Linked DNA regions of Homo sapiens: regions 1, 2 and 3 are each linked to region 4. The links come from fine-mapping of genetic effects on gene expression. A gene starts in region 4. Each other region holds a variant in brackets. All regions are shown on one strand. Distances are between the middles of the regions. Region 1 has its middle 340 kb from the start of LNCARSR. Region 2 overlaps TLE4 (TLE family member 4, transcriptional corepressor). Region 3 overlaps TLE4 (TLE family member 4, transcriptional corepressor). Region 4 holds the start of TLE4 (TLE family member 4, transcriptional corepressor).

What was found. PIP is the estimated chance that this variant, and not a neighbour inherited with it, causes the effect. A credible set is the group of variants that fine-mapping cannot tell apart.
Region 1: its variant is the best candidate, but not a certain one, in a credible set for the expression of TLE4 in fibroblasts (GENCORD, PIP 0.54).
Region 2: its variant is the best candidate, but not a certain one, in a credible set for the expression of TLE4 in whole blood (INTERVAL, PIP 0.76).
Region 3: its variant is the best candidate, but not a certain one, in a credible set for the expression of TLE4 in whole blood (TOPMed, PIP 0.52).

What each region holds. Positions count from the first base shown.
Region 1 is chr9:79,224,912-79,229,077 of GRCh38, reverse strand. No RefSeq gene overlaps it. Among named protein-coding and RNA genes, the nearest start is that of LNCARSR, 340 kb to the left of the region's middle. The variant C/T (reference allele first, on the strand shown) is at 2,544.
Region 2 is chr9:79,598,399-79,602,564 of GRCh38, reverse strand. All of the region lies in intron 4 of TLE4 (TLE family member 4, transcriptional corepressor), which reads right to left. Among named protein-coding and RNA genes, the nearest start is that of TLE4, 29 kb to the right of the region's middle. The variant G/A (reference allele first, on the strand shown) is at 1,821.
Region 3 is chr9:79,686,315-79,690,480 of GRCh38, reverse strand. All of the region lies in intron 8 of TLE4 (TLE family member 4, transcriptional corepressor), which reads right to left. Among named protein-coding and RNA genes, the nearest start is that of TLE4, 120 kb to the right of the region's middle. The variant T/C (reference allele first, on the strand shown) is at 1,574.
Region 4 is chr9:79,570,436-79,574,601 of GRCh38, reverse strand. It overlaps TLE4 (TLE family member 4, transcriptional corepressor), which reads right to left and starts at 2,637. Exons shown (of 20, transcript NM_007005.6): 1 at 1,767-2,637; 2 at 816-913. The coding sequence starts at 1,811. RefSeq lists silencers at 1,026-1,265, 1,286-1,755, 1,866-2,025, 2,086-2,205, 4,116-4,165 and enhancers at 1,096-1,708, 2,436-2,525, 2,566-2,615, 2,626-2,755.

The DNA of each region.
Region 1 (4,166 bases), 350 kb after region 4:
TCTGATTGGTTGTGGGAAGGAAACAATCAGAGGTACTTTTCATTTTTCCTCTACGATGAAGTGCAAAAAGAGTAGCCTCTGATCCTTTTGTTACTTTGGTGTGGAGAGGTGGGGTTTTCCTTTCGATTCGTTCTAGGAAGTTAGTGCAAATCAGTCATAGGTTCCCTGCCTCCAGATCCTATTCTCCTTCCTCACAAATGGCCAGGAACTGCTCTGAGTGCTTGGTTATATAACATATAACATGACTGTATTAGAAAGCCTTGGAACCTCCCTTGGGGAATCTTGGAGAAAGTCAAGTTCAGTGTCCTTACTTTAAAGATAAAGAAAATGAAGCCCAGAGAGGTTATTAAATTATGAACTTCTTTAAGAAAGAGACCTAAAGTCTCTCTAGGCTCTTTGTTGTTAGTTGCCTTGTATTAATAAATCGGTGATTCATAAGATTTTATTTTTAAGTGTTTTAAGAGATACAGCATAATTTAAAACATTCAGTTGGCCAGGCACAGTGGCTCATGCCTGTAATCTCAGCACGTTGGGAAGCCGAGGCAGGCAAATCACGAAGTCAGGAGTTCGAGACCATCCTGGCCAATATGGTGAAACCCCATATCTACTAAAAATACAAAAATTAGCCGGGCATGGTGGCAGGCGCCTCTAGTTCCAGCTACTCGGGAGGCTGAGGCAGAAGAATCACTTAAACCCGGGAGGTGGAGGTTGCAGTGAGCCGAGATCGCGCCATTCCACTCCAGCCTGGGAGATAGAGTGAGACTGCTTCTCAAAAAACAAACAAACAAACAAACAAAACATTAAATTATAGATCACATAAAACCTTATTTGTTATAAATACTTTGATATGGTGAAATGTATGAATATGTACATAGTTCTCAGATACTTGGATTTTGAACATTAAAAAGCAAATAATTTTAAAAGATGAAAATCAAACAGAAAAAATAGGTTGGTGCAAACATAATTGTGGTCTTCGCCATTAAAAGTAATGGCGAAGACTGCAATTACTTATCCACCAGCTAATAATTTATACAAATGAACCAAATGAAGACTGTTGATCAAAAATCGAAGAATCTTTGCCTTAGGGAAGAGCATGTCATTGGCAACATCTCCAGTGAAAGTCTTTTGGGGCAGCAATGATACTCTGAATGTGACCTTGGTTGGGTAGCCCGAGAGACATAAGCAAGAGAAAGACCAGGAAGAAACTAGAGCCAATTCAGTGCTGATGAATGAAAACCCCACCACTATCTTTCACTGGATCCCCAGATTTGTGGTAACCCCAGTAGTCAGAGTCCTCATGAGCAAGAAGCATTCAGCTGTAGCCCCTGTTAATAGGGTGGCCTCAGGAAGAAAGCTGAAAATAAACTTTCAGTTTGTCTCTTGTCAATGTCTTCTTGATAACAGATTAAATAGCTTGAAAAGGTAAAAATTAGACTCTCAAAGTCTCTTGAAAGCAAAAAGCAATTAATAATTTGAAGGGTCATTTGCTATCTTTTTGTACTTTTTGCCCCACTAAACAATGACTAAAATAGTCAAAATTGATTAAATACCTAGTTGCATCAGGAGTTGGGCTAAGTGCTTTTCGTACATTGTTCTATTTGAATCTTTGATTCAAACTTTGCAAGGTGGATGTTTAATAGAGAAATTAAGGCTCATATAGATGGAATACACTTGTCCAAAATCAAAGGGTAAGGGAGGGTGCCAGATTTTGAATTCAGTTTTCTCCTACTTCAAAGCCCATGTCCAACCAAATATGCAGAAACCCTGTTTATGGCATAATGGATTAGATTTATTCTAGTGTGCATTTTTTTGTGATGCTTTGGCTGGCTATGTTGACCAATTGATTACCTGATTATGAGAAAGAGTGAGATGAAGAAATTAGTAATATCAGTGAAATTGTATCAAACAGGACTGAATGAAAACAACAGAACTTTATGGAAAGACATTCATAGGGCCCTCTGATTCCAGTGACATACATATGACATCTGACAACAGGTCATCAAATATGATGACTCAAATGTATCACAACATGTAATGAGAATTGTATCACAGATTATTCTTACTTTACTCATTAGTTGTCCGCCCCGCAAAGTATGAATTGAACAAAATGAAACAAAACTAAACTCAACTAAATCTGAATTCTTTCTTCAGGATATTGCATTATCCCCAGAAAAACACTGTATGTCTGATAAAACACAACTATTGGGAGAAAACACTGAAGTTGTGTTTTAAGACTGCTCTGTTTATGCCAAAGCATTAAAGTTTTCTGAAGATTAAAAACATCTTGCTTCTAATAGAAACCTCTGAGAAGAAACATGTGCCCTCCAAATCTGCAGAAGATGCAAAATTTATTGAGGAAATTACTAGAATATAAATGGTAACAGATAAAAAAGGAAAAAAATGAGTACAAATTAGTTTTTTCTTTTCCTTTCTCCAAGACAATATGCTCTGCTTAAAAATAAATTAAAAGTTCATTATGAGAGAGAGAACTTAGCTTGGAAGAGCTGTGTGTGTGTGTGTGTGTGTGTGTGTGTGTGTGTGTG[C/T]GCGCGCGCGCGCGCGCTTACATTCCTAACTCAATGATTTATTTTTCTCCACCAACAACAGAGTATAATACTATATGAATTTAGATCAAAGAAAAAGTAATATGGACTACAGAGAGTGTTTTAAAAGGAGAAGGAGGAAGGGAATGAAGGAAAGGAGGGAGGGAAGAAAAGAAGGAATGAAGAAGCCAGGCGCAGTGGCTCATGCCTGTAATCCCAGCACATTGGGAGGCCAAGGCAGGTGGGTCACTTGAGGTCTGGTGTTTGAGACCAACCTGGCTAACATGGCAAAGCCCCATCTCTACTACAAATACAAAAATAAGCCGGACGTGGTGACACACAACTGTAATCCCAGCTATTTAGGAGGCTGAGGTATGAGAATCACTTGAACCTGGGAGGCAGAGATTATAGTGAGCTGAGATTGTGCCACTGCACTCCAGCCTGGACAACAGAGTGAGGCTCTGTCTCAAAAACAGAAAGAAAGAAAAAAAAGAAGTAGGAATGAAGGGAAGGAGGGAGGGGGTAGGGAGGGAAAGAAGGATTATGGTTCACTGGCATCAAAAAAAATATATGCATAACTAAGGCTATAGCCAAGTGAACTTCAGGAAAGCCAGAACAAATAGTACTGGGAGAGGAAAAATATTCTGTGGTTCTTAAACCAGTTGCCCAAGTGCCAGTGCTATTCATTGCTTAAGGTTTGGCAAATATGTTCTTTAACTCAGGTAAAGTAGAGTTCAAGTTTTTAAAAACAAGATTTATAAAATTTATCAAAGTCTTTGGTGGGTTTATGTTACCTTGCAAGTAGAGTAAAATTTCAGACTCTTCACAGTTTTTGACATGCTAGCAGAAGACATGAGAGTCCTGGGTCAGAGACAAAAAACTTTATTACTCATTGCACAGCAAGCATGGGTTTCCTTTGTCTAGGCAGGGAGATGTGGAGGGTTCTAGGTAGATGCTGCACACACTATGCTTTTATGTCACAGTTGAGAAAAGCTGAGCTTAGGGAACCTGAATTTTTTATAATATGCAATAAACAAACCTGCTTGCCCTTTGCTCCTGATAGAGACTTTCTGTTTATTATACTTGGCAGTATGAAAACCTGCCCTCTGCTCCAGAAGGAGACACTATCTTCCAAGGTTGTTAGCTATCCAGACATCTATGAAAAGATAGCCCAGAAGGAAACCACACTGAGGACATTCAGAGACATGACAGGTTCATGGAAAATTGTCTTCTGACAGAACCATAAGGGTATTATACTAAAAATTCTAAGTGTGGATCAGTAATGAATTCCTAGGGAGATCCCTTAGATCATAGATTTGGCAACTCATCAGCTGAGCCTGCTCAACTGTCCTTTCATGTGTGAGTTACAGGTAGGATGATAATCAGAGTAGGAAAGACCTCCTGCGAGCCTCCAAATATCTGCCTCATATGGCTTAATAATTAGTATTGTATTTGGTAGCAAGCTTCTCAATTACAAATTAGACAAATTATTTTGAGCTTTCTGATTGCATATTATTCTATCTATCTATTTATGATATTTAGAATGAGGTTATGCAGGGATTACAAAGCCAAATGTCTACAAGCCCTGGCAAGTAACCAAAATGTGAAGTGAGTCATGTATGCACT
Region 2 (4,166 bases), 28 kb before region 4:
TATAAACAGCTGTGCTGTCACCCAGGCTTTGTAGTTCCATTTATAGAACACAGGCAGGGTAGATTTAGCATAATTCTTAGAGGCGCTAGGATTTTTGGAATGATAAATGAGCATTGGCTTCAAGTTAAAGTCACCAGCTGCATTAGTCACATAACAAGGGAGTCTGTCTGTCCTTTGAAGATTTGAGGCCAGTCACTGACATCTCTTCTCTAGCTATGAAAGTCCTAGATGGCATCTTCTTCCAATAGAAGGCTGTCTTATCCACACTGCAAATCTGTTGTTTGGTGTAGCCACCTTCATCAATGATCTTAGCTAGATCTTCTAGATAACTTGCTGCAGATTCCACATCAGTACTTGCCGCTTCACTTTGTACTTTCACATTATGGAGATGGTTTCTTTCATTAAACTTAATGAACCAACCTCTGCTAGCTTCAAACCTTTCTTCTGCAGCTTTCTCATCTCTCTCAGCCTTCATAGAATTGAAGAGAGTGAGGGGTTTTGCTCTGGATTAGGCTTTGGCTTAAGGGAATATTATGGCTGGTTTGAGCTTCTATCCAGACCACTAAAACTATCCCTATTTCAGCAATAAGGCTGTTTCATTTTCTTACCACTGGAGTAGCACTTTTAATTTCCTTTAACTTCTTTTTACTTGCATTTATAACTTGGCTGTTGGGCACAACGCACCTAGCTTTTGGCTCATTGGCTTTCGACATGCCTTCCACTCTAAGGTTAATCATTTCTAGATTTTGATTTAAAGTGAGAGATGTGAGACTCTTCCTCTCATTTGTACACTTAGAGGCCCTCCCGTGTAGGGTTATTAATTGGCCTAATTTCAATACTGTTGTCTCAGAGAATGGGGAAGCCTGAGGAGAGGGAAAGAAGGGGGAATAGCATGAAGCAGTCAGAACACACACATTAATTAAGTTTGCTGTCTGATGGGGGCACAGTTCACGGCACTCTAAAACTATTACAATAGTAACATCAAAGATCACTAACCACAAATCATGTAACAGATAAAGTAATAATAAGAAAGTTTGAAACATTGTGAGAGTTACCAAAATGTGACACAGAGACACGAAGTGAGCACAGGCTATTGGAAGAACAGCTCCATTCAGGGTTGCTACAGCCTTCAATTTGTGAAAAACAGTCTCTGTGAAGCACAATAAAGCAAGACCCAGTAAAACAAGGTATGCCTGTAGCTAAAGCACATTAATATATCAACCATAAAGGAATATCTATCCAGAAAACTTGCTTAAATTCTGATATGGTTTATTTAGTTTCCCATCACACATCTTTTCTGGCATTTAGGATACCATGCTATTCAAAAGAATAATAAATTATCATAGTGTGCAACAAAAGGAAATGCAAATTCATTCTGGACAATTCCTGATGGGTGAATAAATGATTAAAGCTTCCTATCTGAAACCTTGGCAAAATATGTGTTTTAAAGATTATTTTAAAATATAATAAAGGAAATGCAGCTCAACCTCCTTCTTGAGATTATTTATACCAGATTGCTGATCACCTGACCCACTGGACTGATGGATTTGTTAGAAGCACCCTAGGAGAGCACCTTGTATACAGCGTTCATGAGAAATCTCTATAATGTTATCTCGAGTGAACCAACTTGATGATTTTAATAGCCCAAGGAAAGGGCCTACTCATGCGACGGCATCACTAGGTCCACAGGAAGTAAAAGGTCAGTTCCTGATAATTCAAGGTGTGGTGGTGGAGCTCAGGAATTATACACACTACAATGTGTAGACGAGTTCGTGCTTATTAACCCTGCTCAAAACAACACAGTTAGAGCCAGGCTTGGG[G/A]AGCCATGGGCACAGCTGCAGCATGAGGACCCCTAGAGAGAACAGGCTATTCAAATCCCTTCTGAACAAGGTCCAAGAGTTGCTGCAGCATCACGTGTTGAGCAGCAGGCAACCGAACTTGGGATTCCACATACGGATTCTGATACACAAACTGCCTCCCCACTGTCCCTGACAAACCTGTCTGAATACTCTCACACTGTAGGAGGGTTTTAATTATTAGGAAGTTTTTACTGAAATTAATTCCTTGTCTGTTTTTGTGTGTTTTTGTTGTTGGGGTGGTGTACTGCACACAAAGTCCACTACCATTCACTGATTCCTCACTCAAGTTCCTTCAATGGCTGGGGGAAGCCACCCGAGACAGGCTGAGAAATCAGAAAAAACAAGTCCCCAACCACAAACTGAAAACTCTCTATAATCAGAAAAATAACAGCATTTTCCCTATAATCAGGCTCACATCCACTTTTGTTTGTTTTCTTCTTTTTTAATACTTGACTAGGCAGGTTGAGAAAATTAAAGGTAAAGCAAACTATTGTGTTCCTATATTCCTAGTTACTTTTAAAATGTACTTCAGGTTGCTTTTAAATTAAATTCTGTAGGCAATTTAAAATATTTAAACAAATGCACCTTAGAAAAAGCCTAAACCACGAATGCATTACTGCCCGTGTATTTTTGCCCATTCAACAAATACTTATTAAATATCTACTTACTATTTGTCAGGACTATTGTAGATGCTGAATGAAGACAGAGGGGTGAACAAGACAAGTAAATCCCTGCGGTCATGGAGCTCACATCATAGGTGGAGGGAGACAGAAGCAAACATACAAGTATATAAAGAGGAATTTCAGATACTGAGAAGTGCTATGAAGACAAAATTGGGGGTGTAAGAGAGAGCCCTGGGGCAGGAGGTGGGTCTGATTTGGATGACATGATCAGGGAAGGACAAAAAAAGAAGTGACTCAAAAGTTGAGAAGTGGCTAAAAACATTTTCTATACCACATGTTGCAGATGTTATTAACAAGTATTATATACATAAAAGTGTCTCTTATCAGACGACCTCACACACTATGAAGAAAGTTAAACAGTTTTCTTTACTGTTGGGTATCTTAGAGCCTTTCATTTGATAGTGTTCGTTGTACATCTTTGGAAAGGAGCACATTAAAAGCAATTACTACTCAAGCTTCTTTGACTTTGGGACCCTTTCTCGTCAAAATTCGGAGAGGAGATGATATTCCGTGGGAAACACTGAGCTTGTCAGTAGTTTCTAGCCCTGGCCTTACATCAGCATTACTAGTGGACCTTTCACAAACACCCACACCCAGGCCTCACTCCAGACGAATTAACTCACAATCTCCAAAGACAGGACCCTGGCTTCAGTTTTTAAAGCTCCCCAGGTGAATCTAATGTGCAGGCAGGATTGAAAACCATTAAGCTAGAGCACAGGATGCATGCAATAAAAAATAGAGTGGAAAATAAGGACAGAAGAGGTTCACTGGGGTCAGACTATGGAAGGTCTTGAATGCCACACTAAGGGGTTTGAACTTTATTTAGAAGGCAGTAAGGGCCCATCAAGGTCAATTCCTAGGAAAGTTATGATAAGTACCAGACAGGTCAAGACACCACAGTGCATTTCTGTCCTCCATCCTCCTCTTGGCACTGATTATATTTAATGTTGTGGACGGAAAGAAGAGATTTATAACCACAAAACATACCACAAGAGGAAAGATGGAGGATGAAAGATAATTTCAGAATAGGAACAAAATGAATTTCCAAAGCACCTCAGACTTAGGAAATTCAACAAGATGTTTTCAGTTACTGGCTCCTACTCTAAACTAGAAGCTCTGGTAGAAACAGCAGTTCTGAATGCAAAACTGATCTGAACTCGAGGTGTTTATAATCTGGGGGGGGAAGATCAAATATAAATAAACACAATAACAAACGCCATGTGTTAAGTGCCCTAGCTACTACACAGAGGAGCCCTGGAAATCTAAGAGTGAGGAGGGGAAGAAAACCCTTCTGGCTTTGGGGAGAGAGTAATGTGAGCCATATTAATTTCATAACTTTCGATTATTGTCTGCTACTCTGCCATATACTGCATTATAGTCTGAAAAAAACAGTACAGGAACAAGATAGGACTTACAGAGTCCATAATCTAGCAAATGAGACAGACATTGAAACAAATACAGAATGCAGGGTATTTTTAAATGCTTTTTAGAGGACTATTTCCCTGAGTAACTGAGGGTAAAATGAGTCTGACACACAAAGGAGAAAGGGGCAGAGAAAAGGGTAAGACCATTCCCAGCAAAGCCTGCCATACCAGCATGGGACACTGACGTTCAAATAAAAAAG
Region 3 (4,166 bases), 120 kb before region 4:
GATCTAATCAACCAGAATTAAATTTCCACAAAGTGGTACCCAGTACTTAAGACAGATGTTAAAGAATAAATTCTGATCCTTACTCAAAAAACTTAGATAAAGGTTAAGCCATATTTATGTGACCAAGAGAAAACTGAATTGTAAGAGCATAATGAGGCATTAGTAAGAAATGACACTTCACGTTTATGAAGAGGTGAAATTTACCCACTGACACTTCCTATGGGAGGGGTAGACCTGGAACTGCTTGGGAAGAATTAGCATTACTAGGACCCAAATCTGCACTGAGGCTATTTCAAGCATGTGCATGTGAGGTGGCTAGGCTTAGGCTAAGTCTGGAAAGAAAGAGAGGAAGAGTAAGGTATAGAGCAACAAGGACCCCCAAAAGGAGTCTTAAAATCTGGGATGGGGTCATGGTTGGAATGAGACAAATCAGCAAGGAGTAAATAATTCAAAGGACCGGGCAGTGGTTCTAAGGTCTGTCAGGGGATAAGAATCACCTGTGGAGCTTTCAAAAAGCCCCATCTGGAACCCACCCCAGAACAATTAAATCAGACGCTGTCCAGAGAGGGTAGGCTTAAGTAAGTGGCCTGGATACAGGCAATCTTAAAAGCTCCCAGGTGATTCTAAAGTTGACAACCTCTGACCTAAGGCATATTCAGATAATCAACAAGCCACTGTGATTGCTATCAATTACCACTCCTAATCAACTAGACCTGCTTACCTATCAGCACAAGTCACCTTCATCCTTTCTGAGAGCACAATTAGCTCAGCAACAAATCCCAGACTTTCTCTCCCTATAAGCCAGTCACGTCAGGATGAACTACATTTCAAAACCACAGTTGGGAGAGAGAAAAAACGCAATCATAACCATGTCATAAGATGAGGCAAGATGCTCTTTACGCACTTCTGAATACTGAATGCAGTGCTTCCATGCTTGACTCTACAATGCTGACAAAGTGATGTATTTTGAGTGCCATAATTAAAACAATAATCTCAATAAAGTGGGCATTATGAGATAATTGCCCATCCTCAGGTATTAAGCAAACTGTGGTAAAAGCCAAGGATACTCATCGCCAAGGTCAATTACAATAATTGCTTATTTGAATTACATTATTGCTATTGTAAACCCTGCCTGATTAAGAAAAAAAAAAAACAACAATAAAAATTGATGTAACACACACCACAGGGAAATTGACCTGAGAAGGAGTTCTTGTTCTACTACTGGTCATTTAAGAATTCTTATCAACTTTGCAAAGCCTCCACTTACATACGCCCTATGCCTTTAAACATACCCACACACACACATACACATTTCCTTGGTTTTGCAGTCTGAATTCATCAAGGAAATATGCCTATCAGAAATTAGAGAAGTGGCTTATAAGAGCAACATATGGAAACATATAGGAAAATGGAGTAGTGGGTCAAGCTAATAATAAAATTAGAGGGTAGAGAAATGCATTACTCTGTGAGTTCATTCATTTTTCATCAACACATTACAGAAGAGGTCATCACTGCCTTTTGCAGAAACTGAGTCTCTCAGTTATGCTGGCTTATAGCTTGGGGGAAGATATGT[T/C]GTCCTCCACATGCCACTGTCAGCTTGTCTAGATTAACACTCAGGCAGCTCAAGTAACCAATGGTCAACCAGAAAAGCTCTGAAGATGAGATGGAAGAAAACAGAATTTTTGACCTTCCTTCAGCTAATTGGAATGTATTTGGCAATTGAAGAGTATAAAACTTCTTTTTAAGTTGTGATTAAACATCGAGGCTTTGATGTTTTATACGGCATTCTTCCCCACAATTAACTTCATTAGTGCAGTTAATTAGTGGGGAAGAATATCGTATAAACATCAAAGCCTCAGTGTTTAGTGTCACCATCAGTTCAGCTAAACAGTAATAAAGAAATAATTTCTTAAAACACATTTATGCATGCTCAGCACTTCTATTTACAAGCTTAAAGTGTATGATAGGAACATATTAAAAAATATCCAAAGATGCTATCTATACTGCAATCCAACTGCACTGACAGCAACAAGACACCATTTAATGTAGTATAATTAAGTGCCCAAGAACGCCACATAAAGCAAAAGAATTGAGACATTTAATCAGTTATGAGGACTGTTATAAATCTACCATTACTGTGAAATGAAGGAATGGCAGATAACCAAGGGAAACAGTCACAAAAACTATGTAACCTGAAGGCTAATTCTAATTAGGCATTAGATAGTGGGTTTTCAGTCTTTCGGGGGTTGAAGGGGAGAAGGCCAAGCTATAAAATAAGAACTGCAGATGGCAGGTCCTTATAAGCACTATAGGACAGCACGAAGTATACTGTGACCTTTCCTTTGGTAGACAGTGTGCAGAGATGGTGAGACTATTAAAATGTGAAGACCAGCAAGGTGGGCCTTCTCAACGTGGAACAAGGGAAGGAAGTTCTCATCTTTAGGTGGGAGGGACCAGAGAAATCATCTAGCCTCTTGCTACTCAAAAAAGTGTGGTCCACTGTCCAACAGCATCTCCTGAGGGCTTGTTAGAAATGCAGAATCCCAGTCTCACTGCCAGACCTACTGAATCGTGTGCTTTTAACGCTCATTAAAAGTTTGAGAAGCACTTGTCTACCTCAACCTCTTCACTTTGAACAGGAGGAAACTTGAATCCTAGGGGACGAAGTAACTCATGCAAGGTCACAAAGGGCTGATAGTTGAAGACAGGCCTCTGATTTTAAGGACTGCCTCTTATAGGAGGCTCAGCAAATTACACTTGTGTATTGTGAAAAGAAACCAGCCTGTACAAAGAGCAGTAAGGCAACATCAAGAAAAGAGGGCAAGGAAGAGGCCAAGGAAGGGCAAGGAAGAGGCCAAGGAATGACAAGGGACTTGCTTCATTAGGGTTGACAATTCTGGATTCAAATATATTTGATGTAGGCTGAGAACTCTATCAAACATGTAAGAAGTAAAAACTACTTAAGTTCTATAAAAATGAAAGACGAGGAAAAAAGAATGTTACAAAATTTTATTTTGTTTTGTTTTCTGAAAAGATTAGAGAAGGAAAAGCTCTGAGGTCTCCACTTGAGAGATATTTTTGAAGGGAGAGACAAGGAAGAAAATCTGGCACCCATGGGGCCACCACATATGACCACACAGGATGTAGATGCTACAACTCCAGGAAACACCAGAACATCGTAGATTCATGTGAATTGCGCTTCTGTATAACTTGTACGTGGCCATGGCAACACTAACCCAAGCCCATGAGCAAGTGAGGAGCATGGTGAGCTCGTTGCATCACCCACGGCTGGATCCAAGGGCAATTACGATTCGGGGGAGAAGAAGAATGTAGGCTACATAAACGCAAACTGAGGCAATACTGTCATTATTGCTAATCTATAATTACTGTGTGTCTTCCCAGTGAAATGTGAGCTGCATGTGGGCAGAAATTTATTCAGGGTTTTCACCACAGTATCCCCAGAGCCTAAGTGCAGTGTCTGCACCTGACCAGATGATACCAAATGACAAAATTTTAAAAGCTTTTAACATGTACAGTTCTGGGGCTTATTAAACGTAGATGCTCACTGGATTTAGCATCATACAGCAAGTACTTCACTGATGATGAAACACAACTGACAGATAAACTTCGCTCTTGGGAGCCATTATTAGTTTCCTGGGGCTGCCACAACAAACCACCACAAACTAGGTGGCTTAAAGCAACAGACATTTATTTCTTGCGGTTCTGGAGTCTGCAAGTCTGAAAACAAGGCATTGGCAGGACCATGCTCCCTCCAAAGGCTCCAGGGAAGAATGCTTCTTTGCCTCTTCCAGCTTCTGGTGGTTGCTGGCAATCCTTGGCATTCTTCGGTTTGTGGCAGCACAACTCCAGTCTTTCCTCTTTGCTTTCTCATGGCCTTCCTTTCTGTGCCTCCTCTGTATCGTCAAACCTCTCTCTCCTTATAAGGACATGAGTCACTGGATGCAGGGCCAACTTGATTCCCGGATGACCTCATCTTAACTCGATGACATCTGCCAAGACCCTATTTCTAAATAAAGTCACAGTCACAGGTACCGGGGATCAGAATTTTATTACATCTTTTTGAGACACAATTCAACCCCGAAGAGAAACCAACATTACAGATGTTTTGATAATGTTTAGAAACTGGTTGTTGGTTCAAAGCTTTT
Region 4 (4,166 bases):
AACTTCCTCCAGAATTGAATATTCACTTAATAAAACAAACACGAAAATAAACTTCAATAATGACTGCACATACAAGCACAAATAAGTCCTCCAAAACGTCACAAGGGAATTTCTTTAATGTTCTACAAAGAGATTAATGAAAATATGAATCAAGCATGTCTTATGAATGATATCTTGTTTTTTTCCCTCCAAAACACACAGACAAGTTGAATACCACCACCCAGGGGCAAAGTGTCAATCGGGTTCAGTGGTTTGTTTTGGTTCTTGCATTTATGAAATAAGAATTAGGCATCATTAAAAAGCCAGCTAAAGAAAAATGTCTCAAAGGCACCCTAAGTCTAAAAATCGTCTATAAGATGAAAACATTTTTTTTTTTTTTAGCATAAAAGTAATGAAATCGCTCACTCCGACTTCCCTGGGCTCTCAGCTCTTCAGTGGAATGGCAGAAAAAAGTGAGAAGGAATCAAGTCCGGAGTAATAAAGAACCAAGGATGTCAAAAGGCCCCAGAATCTTCCCAACCTTTCATTCTCCCGGCCCCAATAAATCAATATCGAAAGTTTGGCCTCAGCGTTTTCCAAGTCTCCCCAGTTTCGATTGTTCTGCCTTCTTTTTATTTACGGTAGAAGAAATGTTTAATTTATTTACACCTGCCTAAGGAAGGAGGCCTTGATTTGCCCTTTCTGCCCACCGAGAAAAAAAAATAATACCTTTGTGACGCCCCCACAAAAAAGGAGGAGGGTAAGTGTTTGTGTGTATTTGTCGGGGAGACAAGAGCTAAGCAAACAGAAGGATCAGCTAAAGTCAATATCGTTACCTGTGGTATTGAGCCTGTAAAAACTGAAACTCTTCCTTAATCCGATCACAGGATTCGGAAATTGTAAATTTAAAGGGTTGAGCAGGCTGATGCGGTGCCTGAAGAACAACAATAAAATATTTAATTAGCCCACATCACAGGCGAAGCAGGGAGACGGAGAAAACCTACTATGCGGCGTTAGCGGGGGGTGAGGGTCATCGCGCACGCAAGCAAAGAGAGATTAAAACTCTCCTCCCGCAACCCTCCTCGCGCCCAACAGCCCAGGCAGAGGCTGGTTTCGAGGTGGTCCTGGGGCCCCGCATACTCCCGCCCGCAGGCCCCCGCGCCCCGGACCCCGAGGGTTCGAGTCCCGTCTCCCCTCCCCGGCCAAAGACAGGCACCCAGGGACCCGCGCGCCGCGCCCACTCCCTCCTCACCCGGAATCGAAACTGGCCCGTCGGGGGGACCCGCGCCATGGCGTCGGGCTGCGGTCAGGCCGGGGGAGGAGGGAGGCGGCCGCCACCCTCTCGGCTCGTTCGTTCGCCCGCTCGCCCCGGCGGCCCGCGGCGCGAGGGGCCGGCGCCCCGCACTTCCAAACCGCAGCCAGCCCAGCAGCGCCGCTGCCGAGGGCGCCCTCCCCGCCCGGGCGCGGAGTCGCGCCTCCTTCATCGCTCGCCACCCCCCCTCGAGGAGTCGCGGCGCGGGGACCGCAAACGGCTCGGCGCGGCTTCCAGGGGCTTCAAAGACAACAATAAGAAAATGGCTACAACTCAATTGCCTCTCCGCACCCCCTCCGAGGGCCACCGCGCCGGGGGGTGGGGGTGATGGCGGGCGGGCTGCTCCCGGCGCGGGGCGCCGATTTCGGGCGGCTCTCCACGCCCCTCCGGCCAAAAGACACAACTCGGTGCGCAGGGGGCGACGCGGGGAATCCCCCAGCACCCGGCGAGCCCGCGCCCCGCCGCCCGCACTCACTGGGTGTCTGGTCTGCGGGTACATCTTGCTCAGGTCGCGAATCATCCAAGCCGATTTAGTTGGCTGCGCTCGGCAGAGGCGCGCGGCTCATTGGCTTTAATGACCCCGAAGAGGAGGCGGCCGCGGCAGCGGAGGCGGCCGGCTCGGTCTGAGGGGCGGCTCGGGCGGTCCCGGCCCCCGCCGGGTCTCGCGTGACACGGGCGGCAGGAACGCGCGGCGGCGGCTGGGTGCCGGCTGCCGGGCCGCTCCGCATTCCCCGCGGGCGTCACTGGCCCGCCGCGGGCATTGTCCGGCGCGCGTCTCCCAAGGCAACGCTCCGACGTTCGCTCCGCCGAGGCGCACCCGCCGAGCCCGGCGCCGCGGCCGCCGCTCACCCGGCCGGGAAAGTGCGGGCTCCGCGCCCCACCGCCCGCCGGCAGCTCCTCTCGCTCGCTCTGCGTCCCACTCCAAACTTTTTTTATTTGTCTTTTAATTGGTTGTTATTCCTCCGAATGAATGATCTTTCTTCTTCCCTAAAAGCAAACACAAACTCCTTTGGTTCGGAAGAGGTCTCGGCGGTGCTTTTTGGTTTCTCTGGAGATTTTTTTCACTTCACAGCAACGATCTTTTAAAAGGCACCTTTTAGCTTCTTTTACCACATCTCATTTCCTTATTTCTCTTCCTTCCTGTTTTCTTGTCTTTTTTTTAACCCCAAATTGAAGGGGATTATAAAAATAAAAGAGTGAAACGCTTGCGGCTTTTTTTTTTAATTCTCTCTCCTTTCAAACTCTGCGAACACCACCTCAAAATAATATACAAGTGTGTGAGAAAGGGGGAAGAAAGCAGCCAACAACCCAAACACCCGCTCAGCACAGCTCTAACAACACGCTCTGTGTAGGTGACTTCTTTGACCAAATTTAGCAGCAGCTAATCATTAACATTCTGATACATATTCACAATCTTCCGCGGGGCGGCCGCGCAGCATCCCGGGAGATGTAGTCCGCCCCGGGCGACCCTGCCTGAGAATACGGCCAGATTGACTACAATCACCGGCCCGCCATGCGAGCGCTCTGGCGAGCTCTCCAAGCGCCCCGCCCACCCCCGTTGCGGTAGGCGTCTCCACCAACCAATCAGAGGTGGCTGAACATTAATCGCCGTTCTGTGTTAGTGCCCATCATTTCACTGCTGACAAATGGCAAGCCAGCGGGGAGGAGCCAACCCAGCTGAAACCCACGTGGGGGCCGGGCGTCGCCTGTAGCTCCGACCAATTAACGAAGAGGAATGAGGTTGGCGGAGGCGGGGCGGAGATGGCCCGCCCAAGGCGGAGCTTCGCCTTGGCTGACGTTCCTTAGCGCGAGCGTTCGAACCGGGAAAACATTTGTTCAGCTGTCAATCAAAGTAACGTGGGGCTGGGAGAATCGGCGGCTGCTGCTGTTGCTGCTGCCCTGGCTGCATCTTCAGAATTAGGTGTTGGTGGTGGTGGTGGTGGTGGCGGCAAAATAAAGAGGGTGGAGGGAGCGGTGAGCCTGGGGGCTGGTCAAAAGATCTTCTTCCGAGTCTCGTCCTCCCGCCCACCCGTCTCCCAACCCAGACACCTTCGGCCCCTCGCTCCGCAGCCGCGCCAGGAATGCGGACTAATTAGGGTCCAATGTCTCCTTAAAGAGACAAGCTCGGCCTTGTGTAACGCGCCGAAACCCCTGTTGAGACAAGAGGGGGAGGATCACGCTGATCTTACTTCGTTCGGTTCACATCAATTTTACGCGCCGCTGGAGCCGGCATAATTTTCCGTGTGAACGCGACTCGGTCCCCGTTCTTGTTTAGAGCCAGAAATGGAGTCGCGAGATGCTGGCTGGGGCCGGGGCCGCGGGGTGGGCGGGGAGCTCGTCCCTCCAAGCCCCGCGGGGGCTGTGATTGCCATTTAGTTCCGAAACAGGCCTCCCTCCCTCCACCCCCGGAGGCACTCGGAGAGAAAGCGCATCCCGACGCTCCATCGGGGGTCGCGGGGGGCAGTAACCGTGGGGGCTCCGGGTGGGGCTGAAGATCCGGGAATCAGAGACGCTGGACCTCCAAAGAAACTTTGCCGACTGGGCCACGTGAACCCCGAACACGGTCGGTACTGAACAGAGCAGGCCGACGGGGCACGGGTAGAAAACGCCCCTGCGCGCCCTGGGACGTTCCCTCCCCCAGATCAGTACCAAGACTGCGCCTCTTTTTCCCGCTCTTTGGAGAAGCAAGTCAAGTTTATCCCCGTTAAAAACAGAGCAGGGTGCCACGCGGGCCCGAGAGATGGCGGAAAGGTGGGGGTGGCCCCAGGGGCAGATGCTGGAGGAGGAGAGAAAGGGGCAGCCATGGCTGAGGAGGGGCACCCCTAGGGAGGGGCCTGGGAAATGGGGGCGGCCTCCGTCAGTGCGCCTTTCCATC